2 linked regions of the Homo sapiens genome follow. The protein of the gene in region 1 purifies or fractionates together with the protein of each later gene. This does not show direct contact. Each region holds a gene or a part of one and is shown on either strand. Other genes may lie near its edges.

Region 1 (3,651 bases):
GAAGCTGGAGCAGGTGAAGGGGTTAAATCATCCCATCAATTCTATAGCCAACAAACTCAAACCACCTATATGGACAGGGAAAACTATCTTTCTCCCTAAGCCAAATATCTTAATATACCAAATAACCCCCATTAGAAATGCATAAGGAACATCAGCCACACAGAATAGGAGGTAAAGTCTAGTAGACCAAATAATATTCTTTTTATTTATTTATTTATTTATTTAATTTTGAGACGGAGTTTCGCTCTTGTTACCCAGGCTGGAGTGAATGGCGCAATCTTGGCTCACTGCAGCCTCCGCCTCCTGGGTTCAAGTGATTCTCCTGCCTCAGCCTCCCAAGTAGCTGGGATTACAGGTGCCCGCCACTACGCCTGGCTAGTTGTTGTATTTTTAGTAAGCATAGGATTTTGCCATGTTGGCCAGGCTGGTCTTGATCTCCTGACCTCAGCTGATCCACCCACCTTGGCCTACCAAAGTGCTGAGATTACAGGCGTGAGCCACTATACCAAGTCCAATGATATTCATTTTTAAAGGCCACTTCTATTACAGTTCTCTCAAGATTAAATATTTTTATTAAAGCACTAGACAATGAAAGAAAAGTCCACCTTAGTGGAAGAGGATTTTACCTGTCTGAGGTATAAAAAAAAGCTGGAATATTGGCCTGCCTCCGGTAGGTAGGAGAGAAACACTGTAATGCAGATCAGCAGCACTATGGAATCTTGGCCGACTTTTTTTAAGGACTAGAACAAGAAAAAGACTGATTGATATAAGGTTTTCTATCAAAACCACTGAACTATTCTTAAGAATACGCAGAGATTCCTTTTGGCAGTGTACTCATGGACAACTAGTTGTCCTTTTTATTTATTTCATATTCCCCAAACTATTCTGAAAAGTATTTCAAAATGTTAAAAGAAAAACCCAAGATGTTTTCCCTAAAGAAATATCCACAACAAAATATTAATGCTGCACTGAATCATGCACTTTTTTATCAAGGAGAAGGAAAAAGTATAAACTTACCGCAAAAGGGTCAGCTTGTTCCCAGGAAATGGGTGCTCCCCAGGATGCTGGCCGCATTTTCTCAGGCAACGACTCTGGCACAGCAACAAGGATAAAACAAATATCTAGCAAAGCTATTGCTGTAGCTAAGACCACCACCAAGCTGTCCCCATATACTCGTCCAAGATAAGCTCCAATTGCAGGACTGGTGACTAAACTTGCAGCAAATGTTGCTGAAACCTGCAATAAATTAAGGATAGACAGAGATTAGTCAGGCTACTTTTTTCCTCAACACCACATAACTCCTTTCATAATCTTGATTTATGTCAGGCCTTCTGTTGCACACCCTCCCTTTTCTCTTCCTACCTGTGCCATTTATCTTTTTTTCTTGTGGGGGCGAGAGTGGGGGAACTGGGTCTTGCTCTGTCGCCCAGGCTGGAGTGCAGTGGTGCCATCACGGCTCACTGTAGTCTTGACCTCTCAGGCTCAAGAGATCTTCCTGCCTGAAGATCTCCTGATGGGGCTACAGGCACACACCACCACGCCCAGCTAATTTTGTTTATTTTTTATAGAGGTGGAAGTCACGCTATGTTGCCTAGGCTAGTCTCGAACTCCTGAGCTCAAGCGATCCTCCCACCTCAGCCTCCCGAAGGGCTGGGAGTACAGGTATGAGACACCAAGCCTGGCCCCACTTTTCTTATACTCTCTCCTTTGGCAGGAAAAGTAAAGAATTAGATTCTTGCCTTAAAAACAGCCTGGACAACATGGAGAAACCCTGTCTGTATCAAAAAAGAAAAAAGAAAAATTAGCTGGGCATGCTGGTGTGCACCTGTAGTCTCAGCTACTTCAGAGGCTGAGGTGGCAGAATTCCTTTGAGCCAGAAAGGCGGAGGTTGCAGTGAGCCATGACAGCACCACTGCACTCCAGCCAGGGTGACAGAGTGAGACCGCATCTCAAAAATAAAATAAAATAAATGATAGCCTCTCAGGACACTGTCTTCAAACTTTCTAAGCCTTGGAGCCCTCTGTTCCAATAAATCCTACTGGCAAATTCATAGGTAAAAGAGATTTTTTTAAGAAGACTGGGTGTGATGGTTCATGCCTGTAATCTCAGCACTTGGGGAGGCCAAGGTGGGAGGACTGCGTGAAGCCAGAAGTTTGTGACCAGCCTGGGCAACACAGCAAGACCCTGCCTCTATTTAAATTTTTTTTTTTTTTTTTTTTTTTTTGAGACGGAGTCTCGCTCTGTCGCCCAGGCTGGAGTGCAGTGGCGCGATCTCGGCTCACTGCAGGCTCCGCCCCCGGGGTTTACGCCATTCTCCTGCCTCAGCCTCCCGAATAGCTGGGACTACAGGCGCCCGCCACCTCGCCCGGCTAATTTTTTGTATTTTTAGTAGAGATGGGGTTTCACCGTGTTAGCCAAGATGGTCTCGATCTCCTGACCTCGTGATCCGCCCGCCTCGGCCTCCCAAAGTGCTGGGATTACAGGCGTGAGCCACCATGCCCGGCCTATTTAAATTTTTTAACTCTTTTAGTTGAGGAAGGGTTGAGAGCCTGGGCACTGTACAAACACCCCTCCTTGACTGCCAGTCATGCTGGTCCTTAGGGGAGGGGTGTCTAATCTTTTGGCTTCCCTGGGCCACGCTGGAAGAACGGTCTTGGGCCACACATAAAATACACTAACAATAGCTGATGAGCTTAAAGAAAAAAAAACTGCATAATGTTTTAAGAAACTTTATGAATTTCTGTTGGGCCATGTGTGCAGCCTGTGGACCATGGGTTGGACAAGCTTGGTTAAGGGCATCTCCATAAACCCTTAAGTGCTCTCTGTGAAAGGAGTCTAAAATCCACTGCTCTAAGGAAATCCAATTTCACTGTGACTTTTCCAATATTAAAATTAAATGAACGTTTATCTTGATACATACTGAAGGGCTAGCTGAAATAAAGCTTAAAGACTTGGAGGTTCCTGTTCTCATGAATAATATGTTAAGCCCTGGAACAAAACTGAGCTTGGTAATCTTTTTAGTTGGCAGGGTTAGGAAGAATGAAATCACAGATAAATTAAGAACATCTCTAAAACTCTGAGGAAGTCTATTTTTTTAAGCCTGGTGAAGATGAAGATTAAAGTTGAAAAGGACACGAGTAGAGCAAACCTGTTAACCGCAGACATTTCTAGCCTACTGGACAACAGCCTACAAATTAGCAGATGTGACAGCAGGAAACACTTCATAAAAATAGCACTCTTAGTCAGGTGAGGTGGCACCTGCCTATAGTCCCAGCTACTCAGGAGGCTGAGGTGGGAGATCACTTGATCCCAAGAGTGAGTCCAGTCTGGGCAACACCCTGTCTGGAAAGGAAAGAGGAAAGGAAAGCAAAGGGAAAAGGAATGGAGAAAGGGGAAAGAAGAGGAGAGGAGAGAAGAGAAGAGGAAAGGAAAGGAGAGGAGGAGAAAGGAAAAGGGGAAAGGGGAAGAGAAAAGGGGAAGGAAAGGGTTAAAAAAGGGAAAAGGCTTAGGGAAAAGGCTTAAGGAAAAGGGGAAAGGGGAAGGGAAAGGAAAAGGAAAGAAAAAGAAAAAAGAAGGGAAAGGGAAAAGGGGAGGGGAAAGGAAAGGGAAAAGGGGAAGGGAAGGGAAGGGAAGGGAAAAGAGAAAAGGAAA
Region 2 (3,651 bases), on another chromosome or scaffold:
GTACCCAGCCTTAGAATTATTTTGACACGAGTTCCTGGGTATACCATTGGGCGTTATAATGGCCTAATTTGCAAGAGACCTCCCCCTCCCCCCAAAAAAAAACTTTCTAACTGGATGGGGTCCCTGATTATATCATAGAGATGCTTTATGTATGTATATGGAAATGTGCCCTCTAGTAGCTGGAATTTAGAGCCTTTTAAACAGTGGGTTCCTGCTTACTTTTGAAACACTGTATTTTTATTGTACTTTTATTTATTCATTTAGAGACAGGGTCTCCCTCTGTCAGGCTGGAGTGCAGTGACGCAGTCACAGCTCACTGCAGCCTTGACTTCCCAGGCTCAAGCAATTCTCCAACCTTAGCCTCTTGAGTAGCTGGGACCACAGGCCTTGTGACACCATGCCTGGCCAATTTTTTTTTTTTTTTTTTTTTTGGTAGAGACAAGGTCTCACTGTTGCCCAGACTGGTTTCAAACTCCTGAGCTTAAGTGATTATCCTACCTCGGCTTCCCAAAGTGCTGGGATTACAGGTGTGAGCCACCATGCCTGGCTGTTCAGTACTTTATGTCAGTGTTGCCTCCTAGTTTAGAATGAACTGATCTGGAGAATCAAGGATAGTACATCTCACTATGGATGTCTTTTCCTTGTTTGTTTAAGTTACAGCCAGCAGAAATTATTTCCAAAGGCGTGCTTGTGTGGCAACCTGTTGGCATTAGAGCATTTTTGCAATAGGCCACTTATTTCTAAAGCAGAGCCAACAACCAACCACTGAAGCCACATCCAGGCAGTAGTAGTGGGAAATGTGTGGTTTGAAGCCCCTGTTGTGCTGGTGGAGATCACATATTGTTGCAAGCCCCTGGGAGTTAGGTTGTGTGCTACCCTGCCAAGTGTGCAAAAGAGTGTCCTTGGCTGCTTTTCGCCCCCTCATCAGCGGATTAAATTCAGCATCTCTTCTTGTTCATGTAGAATGCTATAGGAACAGCTTTTGTAGCCAGAATGCAGAAATCAGATTAGTATGCTGCTTTATTTTGTTTCTTCAATTCTGTTCTCTGTGGTCAAGCTTTGCTGAAGGAGGAAAAGTGGTTCCAAAAAAGACTATCAGGAACTATTCAGACTGTTCAGATAATGAGGTTTTGTTTGTGGATGGTTGGTTGGTTGCTTTGAGTTCCTAGTCTGTTTATGGTAGTTTACTGTCTGATCCCCATCACTAATGGTCATGTATGTCATTGAGGGGTAGACAGAGGACATGGTCCATTACCTTTGAGAGATAATGATCCAGCTATTGGCTCCCTTTTCAACTGTCACATTTTTACATAGACTTATCTTCCCACACCCACCTCTCTTTCCTTATTACCTACTTCAGGTTTAATCACCTATAAATCTGATACTAGCCCCAGTCTTCCTTCATAAACATTGATTGAGCAATCCTTCTGTGCTAGTTTCAGGATTAGGTGCTGGGTCAGGTGTTGGGAGACTGAAAATGAGTAAGACATACCTGTGTCTTCCAGGAGAAAAGTTCCTTAGAACCAGACTGTGATATTGTGAAATATATAAGGCATTCTTCCAGTTTCTTGGCATGCAACTCCTAAAACTTTTGGAATTTTCAAAGTGGTAAGTGTCTTTTTGTATGCTAATAAGTTGACAGATGGCTGGCAGCCCCTAGGTAGCTTCCTGATGGGGGCTGGTCACTGGAAAGACCAAGGCAGGATTAAAGGTTTGGACTTCCAGCCCCATCTACCAACCTGAAGAGGGGTAAGAGCCAGGCTGAAGGTTAAGCTGATCACCAGTGGCTAATGATTTAATCAATCATGCCTATGTAATAAAGCCTCCATAAGAACCCAAAAATTCTGTGCGCTGCCCTGGCAAATTAATGGAACCCAAAGAGGGTGTTGCAAGAACCTCAATTTGTAGCCGGTGGGTCAGAAACCCAGGCAAAACAACCTGGGGCCTGTGATTGGTGTCGGAAGTGGGGGGGGGCAGCCTTGTAGGACTGAGCCCTCAATCTGAGCTCTGAGGCTTACTGCAGGTGGATAGTATCCGAATTGAGTTGATTTAGAGGACGCCCAGCTGGCGTTCATTGCTGAACAACTACTTGCTTGTCATGTGGGAAGAACTCTTCCCACATCTGGTGATAAACGTATTCTGTGTTGATTGTATTGAGAGTACAGAAGGAGAACCTGAGTTTGGTTTTCTCTGCATCATCAGACAGAGATTTGCAATAAAAGGTACATATAAAACTGAAGGGAGAGACTGGGAGAGAGCTTCACAGAAGAGATTTTTGGGTCAGATGCTGAAAGACTAGGAAAATGTAGTGCAGAGATGGCCGGAGGAGAGTCTGGAGTTCCAAATAGTTGCCTGCTAGGGAAGGCAGGGAGAGGCTATGCCGTGAAGGATCCTCCATACACTTTAAGGATTTTGGGTTTTACTCTGTATGTGATTTGGAGCTCCTGAAGGATGTTAATGAAAAGAGTGATAGGATTGGATTTGCTTTTGGAAAGATCTCCATGGTAGCACGTTCTAAAATGGGTTGGGAAAGGAGACAGTAGAGCTAAGCCTTTCCAGTAGTTGGGGTCAGAAATGCCTGCAGTGGTCATGGAATAGAGAAGAATGGGTCTGACAGCTTTATGAAAGAGGCGCCATCTGTGGGTTCTCAGCTGCTGATTGTTTCCGGCAAGCAGAGAGGAGCCCAGGATGATGGTGGCAGGAGGAGAGAATTTTCTGTTCCAACTAGTCTTTTAATTTTCCCCTCTGACCATTGGCTCAGACCATTCTCCCTCCCCGACTCCTTTTTTTTTTTTTTTTTTTTGGGAGACGTTGTCTTGCTCTGTTGCCCAGGCTGGAGTGCAGTGGCGTGATCTCAGCTCACGGCAAGCTCCGCCTCTTGGATTCACTCCATTCTCCCACCTCAGCCTCCCAAGTAGCTGGGACTACAGGCCCCCGCCACCACACCCAGCTATTTTTTTTGTATTTTTAATAGAGGCGGGGTTTCACCGTGTTAATCAGGATGGTCTCATCTCCTGACCTCGTGATCCGCCTGTCTCAGCCTCCCAAAGTGCTGGAATTACAGGCATGAGCCACCACGCCCGGCCCCCCCACTCCAGCTCTGTTGCCCAGGCTGGAGTGCAATGGCTCAATATCAGCTCACTGCAACCTCCGCCTCCCGGGTTCAAGTTATTCTCCTGCCTCAGCCTCCTAAGTAGCTGGGATTACAGGTGCCCACCACTGTGCCCGGCTAATTTTTGTATTTTTAATAGAAATGGGGTTTCGCCATGTTGGCTAGGCTGGTTTCGAACTCCTGATCTCAGGTGATCCGCCTGCCTCGGCCTCCCAAAGTGCTGAGCAGGCGTGAGCCACCATGCCTGGCCAGACCATTCCCCTTCATAGTAATTTCAGCCTCACCTCCTCTTTTTCTCAGTGGTTCCCTGTGATATTATGACACATATGTTTTTGTCCATGGTTCCTGGCTTATAACTACCATAACTCTTGCTATAATGTTGGGGTGCTTTAGGCCTCAGAAGCAGAAGCAGGCCTCAGAAAACAATCTCCATCTTTGACCTGCCCTATTTTTACCTTTGTCTCTCCAATTTTAGAAACTAAAACTATAATCTTTCCCCATCTTTCTGTGTGAGAACTGCCCATAAAGAAATTCTCCCA

What was found. Proteins that work in one complex are often made in the same cells at the same time.
Region 2: the proteins of SLC71A1 (region 1) and ANO6 purify together in Homo sapiens (affinity purification with mass spectrometry; one large-scale study listed by BioGRID and IntAct). This does not show direct contact.

The regions. Positions count from the first base shown.
Region 1 is NC_000001.11:100,065,562-100,069,212, reverse strand, and holds part of SLC71A1 (hippocampus abundant transcript 1 protein), read right to left. Parts: intron 1,237-3,651; coding exon 1,018-1,236; intron 741-1,017; coding exon 627-740; intron 1-626.
Region 2 is NC_000012.12:45,219,095-45,222,745, forward strand, and holds part of ANO6 (anoctamin-6), read left to right. Parts: intron 1-3,651. UniProt on the Homo sapiens protein: Small-conductance calcium-activated nonselective cation (SCAN) channel which acts as a regulator of phospholipid scrambling in platelets and osteoblasts.